Homo sapiens: one gene and its partners. The protein of the gene in region 7 purifies or fractionates together with the protein of the main gene of each other region. This does not show direct contact. Each region holds a gene or a part of one and is shown on either strand. Other genes may lie near its edges. The genes, in order: SLC12A6, ST7L, ADCK2, CYP51A1, ABCB9, TAP2 and PTCHD3.

Region 1 (4,886 bases), on a different chromosome or scaffold from region 7:
AGAATATTTAAACATTAAGTAAGGAATGTGTTATATAGAGAACCAAGCTTTTAACATCTGTAACCACGTAAACAAACATAAATTTCACTTAGATATGTCCCCATTTTTACCCCTGTAGTCCCATTTTTACCCCTATAGTGTAAAAGGATACCACTTTAGACTGTAAAGAATGCTTAAGGGTAACGTAAGAACCGCAGACTGGACAAGGAACCTGTTCTGCTGGTCTAACACATTACTAAGTCCACTTTTCCAAAGAATAAAAATACAATTCTGTAACATGTAAGTCACAAGTCTAACAAACTAAACTATAAATTACCTAATGATAATTACAATATTAAGAAATTAACACTGGTATAGTCTTTACCTGGAATTTTTACAACCTAAATACAGCATGATGGATAAAAACTAAAACCACAATTTGGAATTAATTTGGAGGAAGAGGAAATGATAAATTTGTATTCCATACTGTAATTTTAATCCAGTGTATGACACACTGTAAAATTTGTCAAAAAGTTGAAAACAGTAAAGTCTGAGAACCAACCTATGTCTCCATAAAAGAAAAAATGATTAGTCAAGGATGAGTGAATTCTAGGACTGTAAACTTTACCAAATCTACCTTGTCTCCAGATACTAAAAACACAAACAGAATTAGGGAACTAAAATCATTCTGGTTTCCTGAACCCTTTAGGTTAAAAGGAACAATATTTCCTGACACCGGAAAATGGTGAGTAAGCCTTGCTTTCACAAGTCAGTGGGTGAGGCTATGGTTTTCAAACTTGGGTGGAATATTATTTTAAGAGTCTTTAAGGGAAATTTTTATCATTAAAAGATTACATTAGTTACAACACAGCATAAAACTAAATATATAAAGCAGTACAGGTCTCAAACTTTTAAATTTCAGAGTCCAAAAAATGTTATGATCTCCCCATTTTCTCTCTTCTCTCTCTTCCATCACCTCTTCCCAGTACCTCAAATAAAACCAAGCCAGCTGACACACACAAACTGGTTTAGGAAGCTAAAGGTCTGTAGCAGTCAACATGAGCCAGGAGTGGCTTGTGTGCTACCTGCTAACTCTAATCATCAGACTTTCCATCTAAAGCTCAGAGAGAATAAATTACATGGGAATCAGGCCCTAAAAGCCTTTTCAGAAGTCTTCCATTTGACAGAATAGCACATTAGGTCTACCCACCATCACCCTGAGTGGGCTTAGCTACTTGTGTCAAGGTCTCCATAAAAATACAGATTTCAAAAAAGAATTTTGCAATACACATTCGAAGTCTTGGAGGAAAGCTGCTAAGATACGACCAGTAACTACTCCATGAAACCAGTCTTAAAGCAGACTGAAATAGCCAATGATGGCTACAGAACACATATCCAACTCACTAAATTTTAAAATTTAGGATTCTGTGTGCTGAAAACGATTACATTCTTTGATATTCACTTTTAACCAAAATACCCATTTCATTTCTAAGAAGACAAAAATGAGGAAGTTAAAATATACATTTGCCTTCCTTCTTGTCATACACCTTCCCACATACCAAATTACTACTGCAAAGAGCCACTATGCTATTATTCCAAAGAGTTCCTAAGCATCTCACAAAGAGATGCCTTGGTTCCTGATGACTATTATAATCATAATTATATGATTATGATCTTCCAGATCCATAGATGGTCATCTTGGATAAAGAACCCAGTAATGAAAGTATGCTGCGGTCTGTGTTTCTACTTACCCTCGATGACATCCTGGGGGTGAGAAGTCCGGTCACTGGGTGGATCCAGTGCAACAGTTGCCAGCGAAGTGGTGGCCCCAGACATCTCACTCATAGGCTCACTCCGGCTTGTTTCAGGCACGCTTTCCCGGGAGCTAAATCTTACTCGGGAACTAGATCGAGAGCTGAGGTCCGGACTGGTGTCTGACAAACCTGGAATGTCATCGATCTTTGTCGGTGTCACCATGAACCGAACTGAAGCCATCTTGGTGGTGGTTTCTGGAGGATGCATTTTGTTCTTTTTAAGAACAAAAAAAGTGGGGGGAACCTCGCAAAATCTTCCTCTTACGCTAGCTACTTTTGACTGCAATACAAAAGATAACTTGAAAAATAACACATTTCAATAACCTTGATTCACACCACACAAAAAGCCCCAACTAAGAATACTTCTACTCAGAATTCAAGCCGACTGTCCTAGAAAGTGCATCACCAATAGGTGAATATATTTTTTAAGAGAGAAAAAAACAAAAAACAAAAAGACAAAACAATGCCAATCTTGTGTGACTTCTTTCCTTCAGAATGAAGAGCTACCTAGCTAACCCCTCTGGTCCGGGGCTGAAGGCTCAGTGCCATGGTCTCAGGGCAGCAGATGAAGCCTCCCTCCCCTCAGCCCCCAGTTTCCTGTCGAGGTAGTCCTTTATCTGGTGAGTGTCCCACGGTTCTAGTTGGGCGAAGTGCGTGCAGGCAAACCTTTATCAGGCGACTATAGCGTGGATCAGATTGCTAAAAGGTGTACACCCGGCCACCTGTTGTGTATCAGGTGAATACCCCACAGGTCTGGCTGGGGGGAGGTGTATGCAAAGCCACCCGGTGTTTTTGATGTCGACAATCCACTTGGGTCTGGTGGGAAAGGTGCACATGCATAACGGGAAAAATAACCCACACTACTGAGAGAAGGGTGAGCAGAGGAGGATGCAGGGGCAGAGCGGATTCCTGTCTCCGAGAGGTCGGTGGGGGTGGCGCGCCCGCTCTTCTCCTAGCAGAAAGGTCCTCGGGGTCTGGGAGGAGGTTAGCGGATCAAGACACCTCGGACTGCAGCTCAGAGTCGTGGCAAGTCGTAGCTAGTCCACTGAGCCACGGTCCGCTCGCTAGGTTTCTCCTGCGTGTGACAGGACGAGCCACCCCCTTTGCCGGAGGCGCGTTCTCCCCTACCCCCGCCCCGGCGCAGGTCACCCCCTCGTCGTTCTTCCTCAGGGTCCCAGTAGAGGAGGAGACGGCCACGCAGGCTGGCCTGACTGGGCAGCAGGGTGAGGGAGAAGGAGGTCGCAGGTGCAGTATCCCGGCGCCAGCTGATGCGGGTGCGCGCGCAGCTGTTGTTTACTAGCCGGTAACTGTTTCAGAGCCGCGGCGCGCGCAGGGTTCGCGCTGCCGGGGCTGGCGCCCCCTCCCCGGCCCGACGCCAGAGCAGCAGTTACGTGACCTGGCCTCCCCCAGCCCCGGGCCCGACGGGGTGCGCCCGCGCCGCCGCAGCCCTTCCCTTCCCTCCCCGCTTGTTCCTCATTCGAGGTGAACCTTGCGAAGAGAAGCCCGGGGGTGCAGTGAGAGGGCGGAACCGTCCCGCGGGCGCCCGAAAGCCCCGCCCAGCCGCCGCAGCCCGCGGTGACCGAGTGCAGCGCGCCTGCGCTCGCCGCGGGACACGGCAGGCGGGGCGGGGCCGAATACGAGTGGCCAGGGGCACGACGGGAGCTGTAGTCCAGGGCACGGCCCGACCCGCGTGAAGAGGGGAATAATCCTTTTCCTCGGTCCGGCTGTGCTGCACACTCACTCTGGAAGCATCCTAGAGGGCGGGCGCTGCTCCTCACCCTCAGAACCCGGGGAGCCATTTCTCTTTCATGAGTGTCTCTGAAAACATCATTCATGATTTCTTTAACCAGAAACACCGCTCCTATACCTGGGAATAACCCTCATTGTAATTTTTATGTAGAGGTCTACATACAAATAAACCACTTTTATGTAAAAAAAAAAAATTAAAACTATAAAGTAGGCCTGGCGCGGTGGTTCACGACTGTAATCCTAGCACTTTGGGAGGCTGAGGCGGGCGTGATCGATCACCTGAGCTCAGGAGTTCCAGACCAGCCTGGCCAGCATAGCGAAACCCCGTCTCTACCAAAAATTCAAAAATTAGCCGGGCGTGGTGGCGTGTGCCTGTAATCCCAGCTATTCCTTAGACTGAGGCAGGAGAATCGCTTGAGCTTGGGAGGCGGAGGTTGCAGTGAGCCGAGAACGCACCATTGCATTCCAGCCTGGGGGGACAAGAGCAAAACTCCGTCTCAAAGAAATAAATAAATAAAAATAAAACTATAAAGTACCTTAAACACATTTGTCCTACTTTAATTTTTTGTTGTTGTTCTTGTCCTTTTAATAAATGCTATGTCCACTTTCTAGTCAGACTGAAAGTTCCACTAAATAATACGTTTTTTTATACCTGGAGAAGACGTTGATGTATTTTCTCAAATCCATTCCATGTTTTCACCACTACATTTGTCGCTAGAATATTTTTTCTTAGTGTTTATTTAATGTATAAATGGTGGTGTTCGATAAATTCTGACTCACCAATGTTTTGTTTGAAAAGCTATTTCCTATAGCTGTGATCAAGACCTCTAAATTTAACAATCACCTGGGCCCAGAAACTGGCCCCCGGTTTTGCCTGGGGTCTTGGCTCCTCACAAGTGGTTATGTTTAAGCAGCACTCCTAGCAATGGGAACTGTATTCCCGGAAGTTCTCTTTTATCAAATGACACACAAAGTCCAAATCCTTTCAAGGATTAAAGGATCAAAAAGGTTAAAAAGATCCTGGTAACAAAATGAGAAATCCTAATGTAAAGTGTAAACCTCCTAAAGTTTGACTCTTTATAAAGTCTGGGTTTCTTGATTCAGGCCCACAGCTTTCATCCATCCTCAGCAGGATCAATTTTTTCCTCAGGCAGGCCTGCCGTTCATTCAAACTTCAGACTTTTCCTTTATAAAGAAACACAGAATTTTTATGAAACCCAATTTCCTACCAGTGTATCTGCATTTACTTATATGTACCACCTAATTCCAATATACTATCCCTGTTAAGACTTTTCTTGTTTCTGAGCACTAACCAAGCTCTATAAATGTATGTCTCAGACGTTA
Region 2 (3,500 bases), on a different chromosome or scaffold from region 7:
GGAGCAGTCTCCTATGACTGCATGGGGTATAACTGCCAAGCCTACTGCTCATGACCTGTGGTTGTTTTTAACTCTTAACTGGGTTAGAAAACTGGAGAGCTTTGGATTCCAGGGATGATCTCCATAAGAGAGAAGCACTGGAAAAGACCAAGTGGTGGCTTTATTAGGGTAAATATATCACAGTTGCTACAGTGAATTGAGCTTTCTCAGAAGCTATTATTTTCTTTGGGTGATTGGCAGGTATAGGGCAATAGCCAGTGGGGTGTCAGTAATATGCCCTGTCCCTGACCTCAAAGGTAAAGGGATAGAAAAGAGAGGGCGTTGACAAACTCATTTTCCCACTTCCCACTCATGGCTTATATTATCTCTGAGCATCTCGGTGGCTATTCCTCATTTACTTAAGATGTTTTAGTCATTCTGGATGTGCAAATGCAAGGCAAGCATTCTCCCACTGGCCCCCTAACGGTTAACTATCCTGGCTTAAAATTTTCCTTTGCTCACTTCCATTCTATGAGTATATCGATGGAGCAGCTGGACATTAGAGTTCTTTCTCTTTGACCAAAGGAGCCAAAATGCGGTGACTTGACTTCAACCCCAACAGCCCCTGTAAGTAGCCCTGGCCAAACAGAAAGGCTAAGCTGAATGAAGAAAAAAGGAAGACAATTTCATCTACAGTTGTCCTTTTTGACAGCTTCCAAGGGGGGTTTGCCTAGGAATAACAATATTCATAAGAAGCTTTTTCATATGCAAAATGCTTTAGCATATATGTAATCCTCACAACAACCCTGTGAGGTAGGGGTTACTGTCACTTTACAGATGCTGTTCAGAAAAATTTGGTGATTTGTCCAAGGTCACATGAACAGTGCGTGGCTCAGCCAGAACTCAAACCTAGGTCTTCTGACTTCAAATCCTGTGTATTCTCCTCAAAGCCTGAGGATGCCCAGGGTTGGGGGCACCAGAGTCCCAGCACCTTCAAAACAGAAATTGATACAAAATGTTCAAGCCCTGTAGGAGTCCCAGGACAGCCAAGAGAGTATATCTGAGCACAGTTTACAAAGGAACAGCCTAGGCCCTCCTGAACCTTATCAACCAATGGCTCTTTTGCCATTTCTGCCACTATTACCACCAGTACCATGTGACCACTATACAACATATTCCACATTTAAACAACTCTGGCTCCTAATTCTACTCCTTTTTTCCCCTTCAGATTAACATTAAAAATTTTATCTAGTCCTTTTGAAATTATGCTAAATGTATAGACACAGTAGAAGTAGTCATGACAGAAAATTATTAAGGCTTTGAAAATATGTATCAGAGGCCGGGTGCAGTGGCTCATGCCTGTAATCCCAGCACTTTGGGAGGCCGAGGTGGGGCAGATCACGAGGTCAGGAGATTGAGACCATCCTGGCTAACACGGTGAAACCCTGTCTCTACTAAAAATACAAAAAAATTAGCCGGGCCTGGTGGCGGGCGCCTGTAGTCCCAGCTACTGGGGAGGCTGAGGCAGGAGAATGGCGTGAACCCAGGAGGCAGAGCTTGCAGTGAGCCAAGATGCACCACTGCACTCCAGCCTGGGAGACAGAGCGAGACTCCGTCACAAAAAAAAAAAAAAAGAAGGTATGTATTAGAATTTTCTTTGAGATTTCACTCCTTTTAAAAATGACGTCAACTCCTGGGTTAGGAAAGCAAGATGAGGGAATAAGTGTCCTAAGAAACTCCCATCCCAAGCCAGACAGATGCCTACCCGTGGCCTGGCAAAGGTCCTGGGATCTCAAGCTGATGCAAGCAATTTGTGTACACCAAGGCAAGGGGTCTCAATCCTGCAGAGAAACCCATGAGATGAGGCAGACAGCAGATTTTCACTTGATCAAACACTTGCTGCTCTCAACCCCTCTTTGTTTTCCCATCCAAAATCTGGACCTCTGTTTAGGCGCAAGACAGTGAGTAAGAGCAGCTCCAAAAGATGACGTATGCAAGGGGAACTCTTCTGTTCAATCCTGTAATGTTTTCTGTTAGAGACAGCATAGGCTACCTATCCTAATCCTGCACCCCAACTGTTAAGACAGAAGGGAAAAGTACAATGTTCATCAATCATAGCTCTGGGATGCTGCAGCTCCCTGACCTGGGCCCCTACTTGAGCTAGGAGAAGAACACCTCATGAAAACAGTCTACCTATAGTCAGGACTTCCCCAAGGCAGACTTTATTTTTTGGTCCATCGATCTTGGCTCTCACTGTTCTCCCTGCTTCCCACCCCCAACTGCCTCTGCATGTGGGCTCAGAAGTCATCATCTAAAGAATTCCATTGCTCACCTCCTGCATAGCAGCACAGCCCCATGAGGCCACACACCAGATGGAGGGGATAAAAGTACGAGGTCATGGCTTCTTGCAAGAGGCTTTTTCTTAAACTAACCCTGACTCCTGGAAAAGAGGCAGAGCAGGAGAGTGTTGAATGAGCTGCTGATGACAGCAGCTTCATAGGTCTTGTGTATAAAGGAAGGAAAAAGCTAACTTGGCTTTCCGTGGAAATTTACCTACTCCCATTTTCAGGTCTACTCCTGGTCTCACATCTACTTCTTGAAGGTGTCTAAGTAGAATGCAGAGATTGTCAAGCTAGAGGGTTAACTCCTTCCCAATTGTAGGGATCTATTCAGCAGGCTGCCACACACATGCTGAGGTGGAGGCCAACCCTGAACACATGCGCTGCTTCTTTAGGAATGTAACTATGAAGTAAAAGGAAACAGTAAGGAAGGTGAACTGGAACTCTGGGGAAACTGAAAAGGTCATCAATAGGCCTTCAAAATATTTGTGTGTAATAAGTAGACACAAGAGGCTGGAGGAAGATGATCATTCCTAGAATAATTATGCTTACTGGGTGACAATATACAGAAGCAACAATTACAATAAAATGAAACAGTTTAATGGACTAGGAAGCAGAAGTCTGAGAATAAAGGAATTAGGTTAATGAGATTAAGCAGAGATGGCATTCCACAGGAGGTGACTTTTGAGTTGAATTTTTAAAAGATAGCTTTATGTGTTTTATGAACTGACTGAGGGCAGTCAGAAGAAGGCATTCTAAATAGAGGGAACTGGTATGTGCTGAAACTTAGAAGCAGGAATGTACAAGCAATATATAAGGAATTTCAAGCAAGTACACATTATATACACTGGGGAATACAGAGAAATTAGAATGCTGAGATCAGGGCTTAAATAATGTGAGGTGACTGTGTGCACCTAGACTGTCAAATGGTTCAGCATCCCCTATAGAGCCACATAGTATCTTGATTTATGTCAGTAAACATCAGGGCACCTATGGAAAAGCACAAGGATGAGTCCATTTGTTACAGACCCAGGGACTAACAGAGATCTACACTGTAAAGTTCAACAAAATGCTACATATCATTAACTACAGCTCCTTATCATTTGAGATTCTGGGCTAAGTAAGAGATATCAAATATCCTATCCAGTACTGTGATACATTAATGTAGGCTTACAGGCCCAG
Region 3 (3,478 bases), on a different chromosome or scaffold from region 7:
CCTCTCTGCCTGCTTTGAATGTCCCCTCAAGACCTGGGAAGGAAAAAATAACATCACCTCCTTGAAAAAAACTGCACCAAAGGAATCTCTGTCCACCTAAACCATACTGCTCACTAAAAGACAGGAATGAGGAACTTTATCCTGGAGAAGGAAAGAATGGGAGAAACTAGTCCTGTAGTCAGGGCAGGACTCTCGGAGAGCGCAAGGGCTTGACTCCATTCGCTGCCTGGTGGTCTCTAAGACGAGCAACATAATCTATGAAGGTGCAGGGATAAACTGTGATTTTACCTAAAAAAAAAAAAAAAGAGAAATTAAGCTTTACAAATACCCCCCCTCCAGGCTGACCCCGGGCCCCTCCTAGTCAGCCAGACGGCCACATCAGCTCAGCTCTGAGAAGAAAGCCCGTGGTTGGGCCTGGCAGAGAGGGGCAGGTGGTGGTCACTGCAGGTCTGTCCCTGGGCGCTGCCATGGAGAAGAGGACACACTGGTTATATTAACTCTCTTCATATTCACCAAAATTAATGCCTGCAAGTGGACAGGCGCAGACACTGTGGCAGAGAAACTGTAGTTCCGGACTAGCGGGTGAACCCGGGGCCATGTTAAGGAAGTGGCCAAGCCGTTCTGCTCACGTCCCCGGTATGTCAGCCACTTTCATCAGTTTTGTTTTACCTTGTAATAAAAGTTACCAAGGAGTTAGCAAAATCTATTAAAAATTACCAAGAAGATAATTTGAAGTACAATGAAATTTGCCCTAAGTGTATATTATGCTGGCAGGTAGCACCTGCATGATATTTATACATAAAGAGTGTGTGTGTGTGTGTGTGTGTGTGCACATGCCACAGATCAGTAGGACTTGATGGCATTTTCTAACCTGAATATCAAAGTCTGGGAACTACCAGCAGTACCCATCTGACCAGGGAGTATAGCGGGTCAAGAAATGAGAAAAACAGGAAAACAAAATAAATTTATTCGTCCTCCTCCACATAACATTTTCCCTGAAGGAGAGTGTCCCTGGCACCTGGCCCAGCTTCCACAATGGAATGGATAGGCCCCTTCCCTCCTTTTACTCCCTAATTGGCCCAAAGCTTTTGAACAGACCCTCAAACCAAGCAGAGGAAGCCATGGTGTGCCTTCCACCACTGGAGGGTTACATTTGAAATTGGTGTCCCAATTTTAAAACGTCCCAGCTGCCATAGGAGAGGCTCTTGGGAGTGGCCTCCAGCTCTTGACAAGGGCCCACAGAGGCCACTGCCCCATCACGGGGGGCACACTGGGCCCGTGAGGAGGAAGGGCCTCGCTGCCTCCAGGATGTCCAGTTTGGGGTCCAGTGAGCGGCCAAGCCCCTCCAACACCATGATGGCAAACACAATGGAGGCAAAGTTGCTCTCAAGCTTTACCTGGAACAGAAAAACAGAACAGTTCATCTCAGAACATGCTGATACAGGGACGTGTGTTCTGGATAATCACCTTGCTGTCCACTCTCAGCCTCCCTCAGACCTGCCCACGGGATGTTTACCATCTACCTGACATTCTCTTCTCTACCGCGTCATCTCCCCAACCATCTCACCTACTCGCCCAGCCTCCCATCTACTGGACACACTAAGGAAAAATCTAGGGGTGCGGAATATACTTTTCTAGGTTTGTGTCCATGTGTGTATGAATGAATGACCAAATAAATCTTTCACACACATCCCAGAAACTATACATTTAAATACAGGTAATTCTTCGAAACCTACAGTAACCTTTATGTATGTATGTATTTATTTATTTATTTTAGAGACAGGGTCTCACTCTGTCACCTAGGCTGGAGTGCAATGGCAAGATCATAGCTCACTGCAGCCTTGAGCTCCTGGACTTCAGGGATCCTTCTGCCTCAGCCTCCTGAGACTGGGACTCTTTTTTGTAAACAGAGGGTCTTGCAATGTTGACGAGGCTGATCTCGAACTCCTGGCCCCAAGCAATCCTCCCACCTTGGCTGCCCCAAGTGCTGGGATTATAGGCAGGAGCCATGTCAGCTGGTCTACAATAGCCTTTTTAAGAGACAACACACAGGCCGGGCGTGGTGGCTCACTCCTGTAATCCCAGCCCTTTGGGAGACCGAGGCGGGCGGATCATGAGGTCAGGAGATCGAGACCATCCTGGCTGACACAGTGAAACCCTGCCTCTACTAAAAATACAAAAAATCAGCCGGGCATGGTGGCAGGCGCCTGTGGTCTCAGCTACTCGGGAGGCTGAGGCAGGAGAATGGCCTGAACTCGGGAGGCAGAGCTTGCAGTGAGCCAGGATGGCTCCACTGCACTCCAGCCTGGGCAACAGAGTGAAACTCCATCTCAAAAAAATAAAAAAAATCAGAGACAACACACAATTGACTGCTCAAACAGGGTACAGCTGTCCCTTCAGAGCCAGATTAGTAGTAATAGCAATTGACATGGATTCTTCAACTATTCTTCAAAAGTATCATCGTTATCCCCATTCTATAGAGAAAGAAGCTGTGGCTCAGAGAGGTTCAATGACTTGCTCAAGGCCACTGAGTGAGGAGGAATAGAGCCAGATGTAAACCTAGAAGAACAGGAATCTGCTTTTTAAGTGGACAGAAGGTCAAGAAATGGAAGGTTGAATCATGGGAAATATTCTTTGTTAGAAATTAAAGAGTATTTGTCTCCGTTAAGGGCTGGAAGGTTGTCGGGGTCAGGTGGATCCAGAAGCAGCAGCATGCTCCCAGGAGCAGCTTGTGGAGTTCCAGCCTGGCAGATTGGCCACACAGGCTCTGGTCCGGGTGGGAACCCAGGGCTCTAACACCTCTGGGAATGCTTTCATTCTGAAGCTGGGTGGGGGGTTCTTAGTGTGGATTAGATTCCTTTATCTCTGTGTTACTGTCAAATACTTTATTTAAAAAAATTAAGTGCTACCTGAATAGATATTTCTTCTAAGGAAGATATATTATACAAATGGCCAATTGGCATATGAAAAGATGTTCAACATCATGAATCAGTAGAGAAATGCAATCAAAACCACAATGAGACATCACCTCACACCCATTAGGATGGCCACTAAAAACAAAACAGAAAATGACAAGTGTTGGTGAGGATGAGAGAAACGACCCCTTGTGTACTGTTGGTGGGCATATAAAATGGTACAGCTCCTATGGAAGTTCCTCAAAAACTAAAAACATACCATATGATCCAGAAAACCTACTTTGGGGCATATGTTTAAAAACTGGAAAGCAAGAACACAATGTATAGACCTTACTGGCTACATTAAATGTTTTTAAAACTTTTCTAAAATTTGAAAGTAGGATCTTGAAAAGATATTTACACATTCATGTTCACTGCAGCATTATTCACTATAACCAAGAAGTGGAAGCAACCCACGTGAACATCAACAGCATCAACAGAATAACAGGCCAAGCGCGGTGGCTCACGCCTGTCATCGCAGCACTTCGGGAGGCCAAGGCAGGTGGATCACTTGAGGTCAGGAG
Region 4 (4,145 bases), on a different chromosome or scaffold from region 7:
AAAAGTCCTCCATACATTTTCTCCCCAATTCCATTCCTTGGGCATGCCATAGCATTTGGGAAAAGTCCAATTGAATTTCTAGAAAATGCATATGAGAAGGTAAGTCTTCCAAATAATTAGAGGAAAAAAAAAAAAACAACTAGAGAAGTGCTTTTTAAACTTTTTTAAAAAAGTGGCAGAACATTTAAAAACATTGTAATCATATACATATCCTCAGTATAGGAAACAAAATGGAAACTGCTCTGGTTTAAGAGATGGTGTCTTATAGATACCTATCCTTTTAGCTTTTCCCATGTCCTGGGGTCGTCTTTGAGACACCATTGAGGAAACCTGTAGTTCTGGCAACTATGGTTTAAAAGCCACTGTTCTGAGTTTTCTATTCACTTATTGTCATTAAAATTGATATTAATTAACCCTCATTTTTCTTTACCATGCATCTGTGGGGTTTTCTAACCTGCTCTATACATCTTCTGTGATTTCACTGTCCACTTGAATGACCCACATGACACCATAGCTACTCAATTATTTGCCCGTCTTCTCTCTAATGAGCTTCCCTGTGCCAGTTAAGCCATTTACTTCACAGTCTCGCTTTGGACTTGTCACTCTTAACTGTTTCACTTCCACAATATTAATTTAGATATCCTATTCGTAGACCATACCGTCTCCTGGTTTGCTTGTGCAACTCCTTAAATTATAACTATTCTTTGACCTCATTGGATCTTGCATTCCATTTACTTTCTCCTGATCCATCAGCCTTCATTCTTCACTTTCCTCTTTCCGCTTTGGGTCCATGGCATGTCGTTTCTGTTACACTCTTGGCAATACTGTACTTTAAATTTCCTCGACCCCGCATCTTTTCATTGTGTTCAGCTGGCAGAAGTCACCCTTGGAGGCAGCCAGTTATTGTCTCCTTCTGCACCAGATTAGTTTCTTCCTGATTTTATGATTGCCTACCTTAATGATATTTGAACACTGCTCCACAGTCCTATTATGTTCTTGTGATTGGGCCTACTTTTCCACTCATTACAGTGACTAATTCAAACCTTCACTTTTCTAAACTTCTGAATCTTTCTACCTCTCCATCAAAGCAGATGATTTTTTCTCCTGTTTAGGAGACAATGATTAAAAACGTTGATTTAGGAGACAATTATTAAAACATTCAAAGAAAACTTCCTCATTTTCTCAATTTCAAATATGCAAACCTACTTGTATTTATATAGTAATCCTATTCTCTTTCTTCCTATCACAGTAATAATTATCAAACACTTACTTTATGCCAGTACTTAGTGCTTTACAAAGATCATCTCACTGAAGCTCCACAAAAACCCTTTCAGGTATATTTGTTTTATAGATGACAAAACTGAGAAGCAGAGAGGATATATAATTTCTTCTTGGACTCACTGCTAGACAGTGGCCAAGCCAGGATTTACACATGGTCTGATTTCTGAGCCTATACTTTTATTAATGATAACAATAATGGAAAACAAGTCATTAAGATGCTAAGTAAGCCAAGGTACTCTTCTCTGCCCTGTATATAAAATTTGGCAGCAGCTCTGTGAAGAACTGCTATTATTATTATTACCATTTTATAGGTGAGAGAAACGAAACACAGAGAGACTAAGTTCTCTGACTATAGGACCAAAGTCATACAGCAAGTAGGTGGAGGAGCTGGGATTTGAACACGGACAGTCTGGCTCACTGCGTTCTACCACTTTGATTTTATTACAACTATATTTTGCCTCTTATCGGAGGCTGAACTCTCCATCCCTCTTTTGTCTCAGGAACTTTTTACTTTTATTTGTTTTCTCAGTGTATTGTTGACTTCTTTTTCAATGGCATCTTTCCTTTTTCTCTGAAAAATTCTTGTCACCCGTTTAAAAACTTCCTCAAAATGGCTTATGAGGCTCTGTATGGTCTAGCACTGCCTAATGCTCAACTCTCATCTCCTCCTTTCTCTTTCTCTTACTTTTAGGGCCTTTGTGTATGTTTAGCTACCAAACCAGCTCCTCATTCTTCTGGTCTCAACCTAGTTGTCTTTTCCTCTATTAGGTCTCCCTTTTTTAGATTCTCTCATCACAGAGTTGCTTTCCTTTCTGTAATACTTGTCACATTTGCAGTTTTATGTTTGTTAATGTGATTATTTGATTAATTTGTATTTTTTCCAATAGACTAAGCTTGGTGAGTTGGGACAGTATTTTTTTTCATGATTATACCCCCAGAGTCTAGTCTTCAATCATAACCAGAAAACTGCAAGGGAAAGTATTTAACATCTAACCAAATTAATATAAAATAAAAAATGAAGTCATTTAGTGTAGGTGAGATAGTGCTAAAATAGATAAATAAACTTGTAGTGTCTTCACATAGCAGGTACTATAGAAAAGGTCAAATTCTTTGGCTAGTCTTGTAAAATTTGTTTTTAACCAAAGGGGGAAGAAGTCTATATTTTCAGAGGTGTTCATCACAGAATTAGCTGTAATAACTAAAGAAAACCCTGACATATCACCCATATGTCCAATAATGAAAGAGTAGTCAGTAAATTAACATTGTGATGTTTATATAGACAATAGAAAACATTGTCAATATAAACTGAAAAAAGCATAATAAACAGTTATATTTATACTACATTTGCAACTAAATGAACATAATTATAAATTTGGACAAAGGAAGGAGGAGTATGGCAAGATGAAAAGAATTGCTTTAAGGTTTATATATGTTTTTATTTTTTTAATAATGCATTATTTTGTGATTTTAAAAAGTTACTGTCGTAGTGTTGCATATTTTTTGTAACATCACTATATGTACTTTTCTCTTTTTAGTATGGACCTGTATTTAGTTTTACCATGGTAGGCAAGACATTTACTTACCTTCTGGGGAGTGATGCTGCTGCACTGCTTTTTAATAGTAAAAATGAAGACCTGAATGCAGAAGATGTCTACAGTCGCCTGACAACACCTGTGTTTGGGAAGGGAGTTGCATACGATGTGCCTAATCCAGTAGGTGACACTGTTACCATAAATAAAGACAAATCTATACCTCAGTAGTTATAGCTAATAGTGAGACATTATACATTTAAAATGTAGAAACAGCCAGGCATGGTGGCTCATTCCTGTAATCCCAGCACTTTGGGAGGCCAAGGTGGGTGGATCACTCAAAGTCAGGAGTTCAAGACCAGCCTGGCCAACATGGTGAAACCCTGTCTCTACTAAAAATACAAAAATTAGCTGGGTGGGGCTGGTGGTGCACACCTGTAAATTCCAGCTACTTGGGAGGCTGAGGCATGAGAATCGCTTGAACCCAGGAGGCGGAGGTTGCAGTGAGCCGAGATCACAACACTGCACTTTAGCCTTGGCAACAGAGTGAGACCCTGTCTCAAAAACAGAAACAAAAAACCAAACACACACACACACACGCACGCGCACACACACACACACACACACACACACAGAAACCAACCAAACAAAAATGTAATAAAATGTAGAACCAGTTTATTCCTTGGTTCAAAAGTCTGAAGAATCATGAGAAGAAAGGCCATGGATAACTGATAAGTAATGGGTATTTAGTTTTATATTTGCTGTCATGGCTAAACAATATTAAAGGGCTTCCTGTACAAATAATGGAATCAATGATAACTTAGCATACTGGGATTTAATTTGAAAGGGTTATTAGACAATGCTGTTACTTCATCAAAAGGACTTCCTGCCTACCCATTCCTGCCTGAAATTCTAACATAAGCGCTGTTTAGAGATTGCTGACTTCAGAAGTCCTCTTTTAATGCAACAACTTCACGTGTGGGGTACATCTATGTGTATGTTTTACCCTCAAAAGCCAAATACGAAATTGTTTTAAGTTGATATAGAACACAAATCAGACAATTGGCCCCAATGCTTGGTATGGGCTCTGGCTGTGAATGTAACACACATTAGCCAGTACCCTAGTATAGCAGTTAAGAGTTAACATTAAATCTTGTTTCTAGTGATGGGGAATGAGGGAATGAATGCCTCTCCTTAAGGCCAAAAAACAGGGCCCTGGAAAATCCCTCTGTTCAGATATATATATTCATTTAGACTCTATTCATTTAGAGTCAGATAGATCTATTCATTTAGACTCTTAAAATGTAAATGCCCAAAGGGTTAAAACCATTACTT
Region 5 (4,736 bases), on a different chromosome or scaffold from region 7:
GTACAATTAGATATTTGCCTTTGTTTTTGCACCAATAGTAACATGGTTCAACTTTATTCTCTCCTTGGTTTTTACTCAATACATTTAGGAGGTCATTCCATACCTTTATATAACTCTATGTCTTCTATTTTTTTTTTTCTGGCTACAGAGTATTCTGTTGAACAGGTGTTCTCTAATTATTTGGCCAGTTCCCTATGGAAGGGTATTTAGGTTATTTCCAGACTTTTGCTACTGTAGTAACTACCTTTAAGCTAGTACCTTAGCTCCCTTGCACAAGTCTATCTGTAGAGGAAATTCCTTCTGGGTTAAAAAAAAACATAGTGTTGTAAGTTCTGAACAAATTCCCCTCTAAAGAAGCTGTCCCACCAAGTAGCAGAGGACATTTCCAATTCAGAGAGTGCTCCAAAAAGCCTCTGTTCAGGGCTGGGCACACATGGCTCACGACTCTAATCCCAGCAGTTTGGAAGGCCAAGGAGGGCAGATCACTTGAGGTCAGGAGTTTGAGACCAGCCTGGCCAACATGGCTAAACCCCATCTCTACTAAAAATACAAAAATTAGCCAGGCGTGGTAGCGGACACCTGTAATCCCATCTACCTGGGAAGCTGAGGCAGGAGAATCACTTGAAGCTGGGAAGCAGAGGCTGCAGTGAGCTGAGAACTCGCCACTGCACTCCATCCTGGAGTCTCTGTCTCAGGAAAAAACAAAGCCTCTGATCAGAGGATCCAGGGATGTGGGCAGTTCTAGCCCCACCTGCTGCCCCTCTGGGCCGTAAGTCCACTCCCCCACCCACTTCCCACGGTTCAGGCCACATGGACCCTTTTCTGGTCCTCAAGTGGCCAAGTTGGTTCCCACCTCAGAGCCTTTGAACTTGCAGGCCTTAGCGTAGGATGTTCCTCCCTCCCCGTGGCTCACGCCTTCTCACCTTTCACTTACACAATTTTATTTATTTTACTGCATCCAGTACCTGAATGGCCTTATGCACTTACTTGCTGATGTTCTGTCCCCTTCACGCCATGAAGGCTGGGAGTTTTCTGTCTTTTCACACACAGCTGTGTTCCCAGCACCTGGCAGTCACTGAGGACATATCGCTGCCTCCCCTCTCCAATGCCCCGAATCCCTGATCTTGCACCAATTTTCTCCGTAAAATGTATTCCCTTCCAATATATCTCATTTGCTTATATGTGTTGTCTGACACCCTCACTAGAATGTCAGCTCCAGAAGGGCAAGGATCTTGTTTTGTTAATTGTTTAATTTCAAATGCTTAAAAGGGCATATGGCACGCCGTAGGCACTGGATAAATATCTGTTGGGTGAACGAATGAAAGAATAAGTGAATGAATGAGGACCATAACCCACCCTCCTGGACTGGCTGGCTGTCCCTCCAGGGAAAAAGGCCAGTTAAAAAGCTGGCCTCCTTCAGGTGAAACCATTTCCGTCCCCTCAGGATGGGCCCGTGGCTCCAGGTGGAGGCCAGCACGCAGTGTGGAGGGCCTGGTTGGCCAGATGTGGGAGGAGTTTGCCACAGGTGAGCAGGTGGCCAGCTGTGGCCCCGCCCCCAGGAGGCCCGTCCCCACCCGGAGGCTTCGCCAGCCCCCTCCTCGGGGGCCCCGCCCCGTCCAGGAAAGCCCGCCCACTCCTCCTGAGGCCCCGCCCCTCCCGGGAGGCTCCGCCGGTCCCTGCCCCAGGATCCCCGCCCCCTCCGTCACTGAGGCCCCGCCCCGTCCATCAGCCTGTCTCAACGCACGCCAGTCTCAGCTCCGACCTTGCAGCGGCGCAGCGCGGGTGGGAGGCGGGGAGGAGCAGCGGGAAGAGCGGAGCGAGGACCGCGTCCGGCGCAGTCTTCAATGAGCAGCGCGGAAACTGCACCCCAGACCCGAGCCTGCTGCGCGCCCCCTCCCAGAGCTCACCTGGTGCCAGGTAACAGGTAAGGGCAAGGCACCCTAGACCCCTGGTTTTGGGACCTTTCCAGGCCAGGGTGCCAGGCCAGGCACGCGTTGGGGGGCGTCTGGGCACCCCTGCCTCGGTGGGAATAGGCATCTCGGTTGAAGGTGGGAGCCTCCCTGGAGCCCTCCCGGAGCCCGCAGCCGCAGCTCCCAGCCCCCATCCCTGCAGCATCCTTTCCGCGCCCGTAGGGCGAATGTTGCCATTTTTTTTAACCCCCAAGGCGCCGCTGCCTCTTGGAAAATGTGGGAGGTGTTGGAGGATCCTGGGATGGCTGTCGTTCCCCCAGGACGGGGCTGGCGCGCCTTCTGAGGGCTCCCACTGTCCATGTCAGGGCTTCCCAGGGATCCTGAGCACCAGGGCTTTGGCAGAAGCCTGGGGGATCTGGCCTGTTCCTGCTGACCTGGGCAAAGCCCTTTTCTCAGTCTCCTCAGCAGGCCAGTGGGCTGCCGCTGCTCCCCGCCATCCACGCTGGCAGTGAGGCCTGTAGGTTCCCAGGGGAGCCTCTTTTATTTCTGGGCCTCTGGAAAAAAAAAAAAAGCCTCCTCCCCCGGCCTGACATTAACTGAGACAGCTTTAAGCTGGGCTGACAGGATCCCCGCCTCTGCCCATTCCCCTTTTCCGGATAGTGCAGGGCCGGGTGACAAGAGGAGGCTTGGAGGGAGGGCACCTCGCGCCTCTCTGCCTCTCCTAGAGCTGAGAGCACCTGAGACAGCTTCTCAAGTCCCAGAGTGAGGCTGGGCCCCACGTGGGCTGCCAGAGGCTCAGCAGGGATGAAATCAGGATGGACCCACGCAGACCCAGCCCGCTCCTGCCCCAGAGCCAGGGACCCCCACAGTCAGGCCCTCCCACCCAGCAGGCCTCTGTCAGTCAGTGCTTTGCTGCGCAGCGAATGGAATGGGCTTATCTGGGTCTGGGCCCACACCGGGGTAAAAAGCTCACCATGTCAGGGGTGAACCGAGGCCACTGGGCCACCCAAGTTCTTTGGCCCCTTTTCTTGCAATCCCTGAATAGCCTGGACAGGGGACCCCCGAGTCTCCATCCTGGAGACCCTGGATGCGGGTCTCCATCCTGCCTTCGTCCTTTTTCTGCGTGTCACTTAACCTCTTCTGTCTCCCCAGCTGTAAAACGAAGCTGATGACCACAGGGTCCTCCCAGGGAAGTGGGGAGGCCTGGCTGCTTTGGGAGGTGCCAGGCACATAGTAGGGCCCGGTGAAGGGTCTCTGTTGCAGTGTCATAATAACTTTTATCTATTGTCTCCTGGCCTTCTCTGCAAAGGGTCTCTGTTGCAGCGTCATAATAACTGCTATCTATCGTCTTCTGGCCTTCTCTGCAGCTGATGCCTAGAGATACCCCAACCAATGTCTCCTACCCTGGGAAGAAAAGCCTTTGACAAGACCCCTGGTGGGGACAAGGCCACTTGCTTATCCTGTGCCATTCTTTAGTGCACGGAGTCAGGGCGAGCCACCCCTGTCTTCCTGGGCCTTGTCCGGTTCTGGGTGGGGCCTATTCTGGCCACCACCTTGTCCTTGTCCCTCAGGCCAAGCAGGTCACCCATGTGCTCACAATTTGCCCTCCAGCTCCACCTGGCCGAGCCCAGCGCATCCTCTGAGTCAGGCAGTTGGAGAGCGGTGACAGGCCTCTAAGCAGCCTTGGCTGGTGGTCACGCTTCTGCCCAGTAGCTTTAAAAATAACGGAGTAACTGTCCCCACCGAGGACTGTAACCCGACCCGGGGCTGGAGTCCACTCTGCTAGGAGTCTGTGGTAGAAGGACTAGTGCTTGGGGGCAGGGACCCAGGTGCTAGCACTGCTCTGCCCCAGCCTGGTGGATGACCTGAGACAAGCCTCACCCCCTCCCTCTGTGGGCCTCAGTTTCCCCATCTGCAAAATGTGGCTTTGGTAGTCTGCGATATGAGTGTTTGAAATTTTGTTTATTCTGATGAAGATAAATAGGCTTCTGGAGGCGGGGGGCATGACTGGTACCCTGGGCTGTTGGGGGATGGGGAAGGAATTCCCCCAGAGGCTGGGAGTCAGGTTGGGAGAGTCAGCCAAGCCCCTGGGCTGCTGTCCAGGTTTTGAGTCTCTTGCGGATCTGCCTCCTGTTCCACTTCTGAGCCCGAGCCCCTTTCTGGGGACTGAGGGACCCCATGTGCCCACCACGAGGAGAGCAGCAGCTGAGGCGGCTGGCAGCACCTGGTGCAGCCGGCAGTGGCTTGGCTGGGAGGCCTGGAATGGCACCAGGCCAGGAGCTTCCCTCCCTGGGCTCTGACTGGAGCTCACCCACTCGCTCGCTCCCCACGGCCTCTGCATTGCAGCAGACAGGAGCCTGCGTGGGCAGCACAGGCAGGGCTGGGGAGGGAGCCAGGACCTGGGCTGAGGGTGTCCGACCATCCTACCCACTTCCCCTTGCCCTTGACCCTGCTTGGCCCTGACCGTCTTTGGAGGGGCAGCTGCTGACTAAGCAACTGTCATCTCTGCGATGGGCTTCGGTGTGCCTGGAGGTGTGGGGGTGAAAGCAGGGCCCAGGCTTGGAGGTTGTTATATCCCCCCACTCCATTCCCCCTCTGCATCTCAGACCCCTTCTCAGCATTAGTAGGGGTTGTGCCTACCTCCTGGAGAGGCTGTTTTGAAGGGTTGGAGCTATGGAGTTGAGAGTACAGATTTTGGAACTGGACGGCCAGGGTTCACATCCCAGCTTGTGACCCAACTCTGTGGGTCACCTAGCTCTGTGACCCAGGGCAGGTCACTTAATCTCTCTGTTCCTCAGTTTTCCTAACTGTAAAATGGGGATAATG
Region 6 (4,191 bases), on a different chromosome or scaffold from region 7:
ATTTCTCATTCTGATTTTCCAATATTTTAGACAGATTTGTTATTGTTGTTTGTGTGTGTGTTTATTTTTCTCATCTTTGCTCCCTTATCCTTCTGGGTTTAGTATCTCTGTTACTTACATGATAATATTAAAAAGCAAATGATAACTACAATACAATGCTACTTTCACCCAGAAGATTGTCAAAATTTTAAAAATTAACACTGTCTGTTGGTTATATACATATATATATATATGGAGAAACAGATAAACTCATATGTTGCTGCTGGAACTATAAATTAATATAGCCTCTATGAAGGCAATTTTGCAATATCTATCAATATTTGTAATGTATATATTGGACTCAGCAACTCCCCTTTAAGATTGTATCATACTTGTATTTTTGCACATGTGCATTACAATGTCTATACAAGACTAACTAGCAACAGCAAAAGACTTCCAATAACCTAACTAGCCATCAGTAGAAGGAAACAGGATAAATGAAATATGGAACTTCCATAAAATAGAATACTACATAGCCATATATTTTTAATTTAAAAAATAAAGTTCAGAACAGTGAACTTAGACAGCTGCTGTTTGCGAAAATACTGAGCAAGAATAAAGATATACATATTTGCTTAATACACAGTAAACTTCTCTGGAAAGATAAACACAAAGCTGGAAGAACGGATTGCCTATGCAAGAGGAATTAGCAAACCTTGAGAAGGATTGAGAGTGAGGCTTTCCTCTGTATACTTCTTTGTGTCTTTTGAATTTCAAACCACATTCATATATTGCTTATTTAAATAAATAAATAATATATTTTAAAAAGAGGATAGTAGGAAGATAAGTGGAGTCAGGGAGTATAGGCAACTCTTTTGAGGAGTTTTATGCAAAGCTGGGCAAGTCCACCTCTTCCTTAGCTATGTGACCCAGGCAAGTTAGTAAATGTTTCTAAAACTCCATTTTCTCACTCTTAGAATTGAGATAGTAATACCTGCCACATAGAATTATCTTGAAAAATAAGGTAAGAAGACAGGTTTCAGATACTTGGCACAGCAATAGCACATAGTAAGCACCAGTGAATGCTTAGTAGTAGTAGTAGTCTAATTCCTAAGAGTCCATGGAACTCTAGGTTCAAAACCCAGTTTCTTCTGGGACCATTAGATGGCATCAGACTCAAGCAGGTGCTCCTCTAGCTGACAGCTCTAAAACACAAGGAAGATCTTTGTTTTCCTTATTCCCTAGTCCTTTCCCCACAAAATTCTGACAATTACGCATTTCCTGCTTGTTTCACAATTGCCATGTGGATTACAAGTGGCTATCCCTGGGTGGAGGCATAAAGGACTTGAAACTCAATGCTGTTTCCACATAGGGCCGGGCAGACAGGCTATGGAGGTGTTTTGGCATCCAAGGAAATCTATCAGTTTCCCAAGCTTTCCCCTCTCCATTCATACTTTCCTTTAGAAAGAATAAGGCATGCCTGGGTGGGAAAGATACTGCAGGTAAGCGACAAGAAGGGGAAATTACAGGGTAAGGAGATCAATCAAATGGTGATGGGGGGTAGGAGTGAACAAAAAGAACTCTGGAGCAAACCAGGATTAGTGACATCTGTGGTTCCCAGACAAACCACACTTACAGGAATTTGTCTGTCTAGCCCGAATATTTTGACTTTCAGGGAGCATTTTTCTGTGTCCCTGACATAAAGCCTACCTGGGAGTTTCCCCTGAGATAAGAAACTTTCAGGACATCTTAAGGTCTACTGCATCTTCCTGTACTGCCCATCAAGATAAGTTTTCCACCCAGCTTTATCATGATTAGCTGCGTGATTTCATGTCAGTTTCTCTGTAAAATTAGGTTTGACTGTTGCATTATTTTTAAGATGCCTTCCAGGCTTAAAGTATTATGATGCATGGGTATAACTGTACTGAGGAAATCAAAGAATTTCTCAGATCATCTTCTTCTGTGAGGGCTGCAGCTTCCATGTAGTTGGGAGATACAGGAATTATTATTCCTGTTTTATGAATAAAGGACATTTGTGGGAGAGAAAGGAATCAGGCCAGAGTTCTTTCTCTCCAAATGCCTATTTTACCCTCTGTGAAATTTGAGAGATGGATGGGTGTGGAGCTGCAAGTCAGCCCCAGGATGAAAGAAAGGCAAATCTGCACAAGAAACTGCCCACTCTCACCCCATCCTCACTGCACCCTGCTCCCAACAGCTGCCAGGCAAGAAAAAATCCAAAACAGCAGTTCTGGGGAATTCATTGCCAGCACTGGAAACTACCTGCTGTTTCCAGGAATATGAAGGTTTCTCTTTCCTAGAATAGCAACTTTCCAAGGTAAGTCCCTCCCAACAACCAGTGATGTGTACAATGTTGCATTTTCAGTGGTGGGAGTGGGCAGGGAGGATTAAGATTAGTACGATGGTGGAGATATTTATTCATTTATTCAATTGACTATTTATTCTCCACTATGAATTAGGCCCTCGGCCAGGTAGCAGATATAAAGCTTAATAAGATATATGGCTTTCCGCCCAGGTGCTCATGGTCTAGTGGAAGGTCAAAAAAGGTGGGAAAGGGAAGATAGAACTTTAAAAGGGCTGTGAAAGAGGTAACCGCACAGTGATAGAAGCACATGGAGAGTTCCCCAGACTGACGACATAAGTAAGGCCTCCTGGAAGACCTGAACCCTGAGTTAAGTCTTGAACTTGAAAATCAGGGGCGAGTCGAGCAGAAAATGGGCAAGAAAACACCATATGCAAAGGCACAAAGGTGTTGGGGAAGGCAGAAGTTTGTCGTGGAGCTGGATACAACAGGAGAGGGTGAGACAGATGGGCTGGAACAGTGTGTGCTCTGAAAAGGATCTCTGCAGCAGGGCTTGAGAGCACCTGAAGGAATTTCCAGAAATGCCATCATCGTATGTGACACAGAATTTAGAAAAATGACTTTGTGAAGAATGGCCGGAAGAGGGAAGCTAATGGTAGAGAAACCTCTCTGGTGATGGGATCATCTTAAGTCTATGAGTGAAGACTATAACAACGGGACTGGAGAGAAGAGAATAGATTCTGAATTATTTAGAGCTAAGAGCAGCAGAGCTTTTCTTGATGGGATTATGGATTAGGGTTTATGGACCCAAGATGCAATATAATTGATTGGGTCAGGGTGTGGACTCTAGGGTCAGGCCTGTGTTCAAACTCCAACTCCACCACTACGACCACCTTGGGAAAGTCATTGAGCCTCTTTGAGCTTCAGTTTCCTCATCTGTAAAATGGGGATAATAACCAACCTCATAGGGTTGGGGATAATGATTAAAAACGATAATACATGAAAAACACTTAGCATAGCTCCTACTCCCATTAAAACTCTATAAATGGTAGCTGTTACCAATGTCGCTATTAATACTGTTAATCAGGGAACTGTTCTCTGTCCCTCCAGACCCTAGCTTCTTCAAAATAGCAGACACTGGTAGGAACAAGGAAGGATATAGGAAGGCAATCTCATGAATATTTATGTCATTTTTGGTTAATTTCTATCTCAAACAACAGATAAACGACTGATGGGACAGGCAGCAAAATAGCAACTATGGTTATCTCCAGGAAGTGAAACAATGGGTACTTTTACTTTTCTTCTTTGTACTTTTTTATATTGTCTAAATTTTCTATATGAATGTATACAGTTCATGTAAGAAGGAAAATATTTTAAAATATATGTATTATGCCACAAAATACTCCTCATCACCAGGCAAAGCTCTAGTCACCAGGGAATTAAGTTTCCTGGACACAGACAGCCCCCACCCCACCCCACCCCACCTCTCTACCCCACCAAAAGCACACAGTGTCCAAATCTCCATCGTGCCTGCAACTCAGGAACAGCTATCTGGCCGCACAGCTCTAGGGAAACTCAAAGCAGGAACAGCTCTGGGTCCTGGAGACGCCCCTGAGAAGAGGGCCCAGTATCCCTGGGGCCTCAGTCCATCAGCCGCTGCTGCACCAGGCGGGAATAGAGGTCCTGTCCCTCCTAGAGCTGGGCAAGCTTCTGCAGCTTGCCCTCCTGGAGCACCAGGATCTGGTGGGCGCGCTGAACTGTCTGCAGCCTGTGAGCAATCACCAGCACTGTGCGATCCCCACGGGAATTCCAGTCCTGCAGCTGAAGGGGTGATCACAGTGCCTCAGAAAGACAGGAATGAGATGGACACCACATCCACCTGGGCACCATCT
Region 7 (4,145 bases):
GGGGGCAGAGCAGATTTTACTCAAAAAATATTGTATATGAAAATTAGCTGGGCATGGTGGCGCACGCCTGTAATCGCAGCTACTCAGGAGGCTGAGGCAGGAGAATGGCGTGAACCCAGGAGGTGGAGCTTGCAGTGAGCCGAGATCGTGCCACTGCACTCCAGCCTGGGCTACAGAGTGAGATTCCGTCTCAAAAAAAAAAAAAAAAATTGAAATGTGGCTAGGCATAGTAGCTCATGCTGCACGCACCAATGGGGGTGGCTCACAGTGTAATCCCACCACTTTGGGAGGTTGAGGTGAGAGGATCACTTGAGGCTAGGAGTTCAAGACCAGCCTAGGCAACACAGCAAGATCCTGTCTCTACAAAAAATAATAAAAATTAGCCAGATGTGATGGCATGTGCCTGTAGTTCCAGCTACTCAGGAGGCTGAGGTGGGAGGATTGCTTGAGTTTAGGAGTTCAAGGCTGCAGTCAGTTATGATTGTGCCACTCCACAGCAGCCTGGGCAACAGGAAAAGACCCTGTCTGAAAAGAAAAAAGAAATGTGAAGAAAAGAAAGCATAATAGAGGAAATGAAGGACAAAAAAGTTATAAGACAGATAGAACATAAATTTAAAAATGTTACAAGTTCTTTCTTGTCAGCAATTACCTTAAATGTAAATAGATTAAACTCTCCAATCAAAAGACAGGTTGGCAGAATGGATAAAACAACATGATCTAACTATATGCTGTTTACAGACTTACTTTATTGCCAAAAATATAAGTAGATTGAAAGTACATAAAAGGATACTCTACACAAATAGTAACCAAAATAGAGCAGGAATGGCTACACTAACATCAGGCAAAACAGACTTAGAGACAAAGGAGTACATTATATATTGATAAACGGGCCAATTCCCCAAGAAGCTATAACAACTGTAAACATATGTGTACTGCATAACAGATACCCAAAATATATGAAGTAAATATTGACAGAAGTGAAGGGGGAGATAGAGCGCTCTACAATAATAGCTGGAGAGGACTAGGCGTGGTGACTTACACCTATAATTTCAGCACTTTGGAAGGCTGAGGTGGGTGGATCACTTGAGGTCAGGAGTTCGAGACAAGCCTGGTCAACATGGTGAAACCCCATCTCTACTAAAAATACAAAAATCAGGTGAGCATGGTGATATACACCTGTAATCCTAGCTACTCAGGAGGCTGAAGCAGAAGAATTTCTTGAACCTGGGAGGCACAGGTTACAGTGAGGCAAGATTGTGTCATTACACTTCTGCCTGGGTGACAGAGTGAGACTCTGTCTCAAAAAAAAAAAAAAAAAAAAAAAGAAAAAAAACTGGAGAATGCAATATACCACTTTCATCAATGCATGAAACATCTGAGAAGAATATCAATAAGGACATAGAGAAATGAACAACACTACAAACCAATTAGACCCTACAGAATTATATAGAAGACTCAACCCAATGACAGCAAAATATACATTCTTCTCTAGTGCCCATGGAACATTCTCCAGGATAGATCATACATTCAGCTGTAAAACAAGTCTAAATAAATTTTAAATGATTGAAGTTATACAGTGTACGTTTTTCTAACCAACAATAGAATAAAGCTAAAAATCAATAATAGGAAAACTGGAATATTAACAAATCTACAAAAATGTAACAATACACTATTAAACAATCAAGAGACATTAGAAAATACTTAGTTAAGAATGAAAATGAACACACAACATACCATAACTTATGAGATACAGTGATAATAGTGCTCAGAGGGAAATTTATAGCTAAATACCCACATTAAAAAGAAAAAGGATTTCAAATCAATAACAACTTGTGGATCTAGGGAAAGGAGGGAAACCAAACCCAAAGCTAACAGAGGTGTGTTAGTCTGTTCTGCCCACTGTAACAAAATATCTTAGACTGAGAAACTTATAAACAACAGAAAATTGCTCCTTACAGTACTAGAGGCTGAGAAAGCCAAGGTCAGGGCCAAAGATTTGGTGTCCAGTGAGGATTTGCTCTTTGCTCCACAGATGGTGCCTTCTTGCTATGTCCTTACATGGTAGAAGGGGCTAATAAGCTCCCTCGGAATTATTTTTAAGAGTATCAATCCCATTCTAATCACCTCTCAAAGGCCCCACCTCATATTACTATCACACCAGGAATTAGGTTTCCACATAGGAATTTTGGGAGGACACAAACATTCAGGCCACAGGAAGAAGGAAGGAAAGAATAAAGATTAGAACAGAGGTGAATACAGAATAGAAAAACAATAGAATGAATCAATCCAAAAGTTGGTTACTTGAAAATATCAACAAAATTGACTAAATTTTACCTAGTGTCACGAAGAAAAAGAGAAGACACAAATAACTTAAGCTGACATGAAAGCGGAGACGTTACTACTGACCTTATAGAAATAGAAAAGTTTATAAGAGAATATTATCAAAAACTGTATGTCAACAAACTGGATAACCTAGATGAAATGCATGAATTCCTACAAAAACACAAATGACCTAAACTGACTTAAGGTGAAATAGAAAATCTCAAGGCCTATAACAAAAGATTAAACCAGTAATAAAAAAACTCCCAATAAAGAAAAGTCCAGGACCAGATTTCACTGATGAATTCTACCAAACATCTAAAGTGGAGGTAACAGGAATCCTTCTCAAACTCTTCCAAAAAATTGAAGACGAGGAAATATTTCCTAACTCACTCTGGGAGACCATCATTACACTGACACAATACCAGACAATGACATCATAAGAAAAGAAAACTACAAACCAATAGCTCTCATGAATATAGGTGCAAAAGTCATAAACAAATACTAGTAAGTCCAATCCAAAACGTATTAAAAGGATTATACATCATAGCCAGCTGGGATTTATCCCAGAAAGGTCATCGGGAGAAAGTCAGTCAATGTAACATACCATATTTATAGAACAAAGGACAATAACCACATGTTCATCTCACTAGATGTTTAAAAGGCACTTGACAAAATCCAATACCCTTTCATAATAAAAACACTAAAAAACTAGGAATATGAAGGAAAATTCCTCAAAATAATAAAGGCATTTATAAAAATAGTAAAACTAACATCATACTCAAGGGTGAAAGAATGAAAGCTTTCCTCTAAGATCAGATCAGATCAGAAACAAGACAGAAAAGACTCCCACTTTCCCCATTGATATGCGATGTTGTACTGGAAGTTCTAGCCAGAGCAATTAGATTAAAAAAAAAATAAAAAGCATCTAAATTGGAAGGGAAGAAATATAACTCTCCCTCCTCAGAGATCACATGATTGTATATATGAAAAATACCAAAGAATCCAGAAGAAAACTACTAGAGTTAACAAATTCAGCGCAGCTTCAGGATATAAGAGCAACACCAAAAAATTAGTTGTGTTTCTATACATAGGCAGTGAACAACCCAAAAAGGAAATTAAGAAAGCAATTCTATTTAAATAGCTCTAAATGAATGAAACACCTAAGAATAATTTTAACCAAGGAGGTGAAGGATCTGCACACCGAAAACCAGCAAACATTGGTAAAAGAAACTTAAAAAGACCTGGATAAATGGAAAGATCCTTAGTTCCTGGGTTGGCAGACTCAATATTTTTAAAATGCCAGTCCTACTCAAAACAATCTGCAGATTCAACACAATCCCCATCAAAATTCCAACAACCATTTCCCCCCCAGAAATAGAGAAGCTGATTCTAAAATTCATATGGAATTGCAAGGAGTCTAGGATGATCTATATAATCTTGAAGAACAACAAAGTTGAAGGAATCAGTATTATTCAGCCATAAAAAGCAATGGAGTTCTGATACACGCTACAAGGATGAACCTTGAAAATATTATGCCTAGTGAAATGAGCCAGTCACAAAAAGATAAATATATGATTCCACTATATGAAATCTTGAGGAAAATTCACAGAGACAAAGTAGATTAAAGTTAACTGGCACTGGGTTGGGGGTGGTGGTGGTGATGGGGAATTTATTGCAAAATGTTAACAGAGTTCTTGTTTGGGATGATGCAAAATATTTGAAAACAGATCATTGTGATGGTTGCATGCCAATGTGGATGTAATTAATGCCACCGAATTTTACACTTAAGAGTGGCTATAACATCATATGTTATGTCATATATA

The links.
Region 1: the proteins of PTCHD3 (region 7) and SLC12A6 purify together in Homo sapiens (affinity purification with mass spectrometry; one large-scale study listed by BioGRID and IntAct). This does not show direct contact.
Region 2: the proteins of PTCHD3 (region 7) and ST7L purify together in Homo sapiens (affinity purification with mass spectrometry; one large-scale study listed by BioGRID and IntAct). This does not show direct contact.
Region 3: the proteins of PTCHD3 (region 7) and ADCK2 purify together in Homo sapiens (affinity purification with mass spectrometry; one large-scale study listed by BioGRID and IntAct). This does not show direct contact.
Region 4: the proteins of PTCHD3 (region 7) and CYP51A1 purify together in Homo sapiens (affinity purification with mass spectrometry; one large-scale study listed by BioGRID and IntAct). This does not show direct contact.
Region 5: the proteins of PTCHD3 (region 7) and ABCB9 purify together in Homo sapiens (affinity purification with mass spectrometry; one large-scale study listed by BioGRID and IntAct). This does not show direct contact.
Region 6: the proteins of PTCHD3 (region 7) and TAP2 purify together in Homo sapiens (affinity purification with mass spectrometry; one large-scale study listed by BioGRID and IntAct). This does not show direct contact.

Annotation. Positions count from the first base shown.
Region 1 is NC_000015.10:34,334,680-34,339,565, forward strand, and holds the start of SLC12A6 (solute carrier family 12 member 6), read right to left. Parts: upstream 3,103-4,886; 5' UTR 2,653-3,102; intron 2,338-2,652; exon of another isoform or gene 2,074-2,337; 5' UTR 2,002-2,073; coding exon 1,731-2,001; intron 1-1,730.
Region 2 is NC_000001.11:112,525,142-112,528,641, forward strand, and holds part of ST7L (suppressor of tumorigenicity 7 protein-like), read right to left. Parts: exon of another isoform or gene 971-3,500; coding exon 872-970; 3' UTR 1-871.
Region 3 is NC_000007.14:140,692,582-140,696,059, reverse strand, and holds the end of ADCK2 (uncharacterized aarF domain-containing protein kinase 2), read right to left. Parts: intron 1,398-3,478; coding exon 1,257-1,397; 3' UTR 950-1,256; downstream 1-949. UniProt on the Homo sapiens protein: The function of this protein is not yet clear. It is not known if it has protein kinase activity and what type of substrate it would phosphorylate (Ser, Thr or Tyr).
Region 4 is NC_000007.14:92,127,728-92,131,872, reverse strand, and holds part of CYP51A1 (lanosterol 14-alpha demethylase), read left to right. Parts: coding exon 1-99; intron 100-2,816; coding exon 2,817-2,993; intron 2,994-4,145. UniProt on the Homo sapiens protein: Sterol 14alpha-demethylase that plays a critical role in the cholesterol biosynthesis pathway, being cholesterol the major sterol component in mammalian membranes as well as a precursor for bile acid and steroid hormone synthesis.
Region 5 is NC_000012.12:122,963,475-122,968,210, reverse strand, and holds the start of ABCB9 (ABC-type oligopeptide transporter ABCB9), read left to right. Parts: upstream 1-1,747; 5' UTR 1,748-1,924; intron 1,925-4,736. UniProt on the Homo sapiens protein: ATP-dependent low-affinity peptide transporter which translocates a broad spectrum of peptides from the cytosol to the lysosomal lumen for degradation.
Region 6 is NC_000006.12:32,824,915-32,829,105, forward strand, and holds the end of TAP2 (antigen peptide transporter 2), read right to left. Parts: intron 4,121-4,191; coding exon 3,992-4,120; 3' UTR 501-3,991; downstream 1-500. UniProt on the Homo sapiens protein: ABC transporter associated with antigen processing. In complex with TAP1 mediates unidirectional translocation of peptide antigens from cytosol to endoplasmic reticulum (ER) for loading onto MHC class I (MHCI) molecules.
Region 7 is NC_000010.11:27,407,592-27,411,736, forward strand, and holds part of PTCHD3 (patched domain-containing protein 3), read right to left. Parts: intron 1-4,145. UniProt on the Homo sapiens protein: May play a role in sperm development or sperm function. However, does not appear to have an essential role in spermatogenesis or male fertility.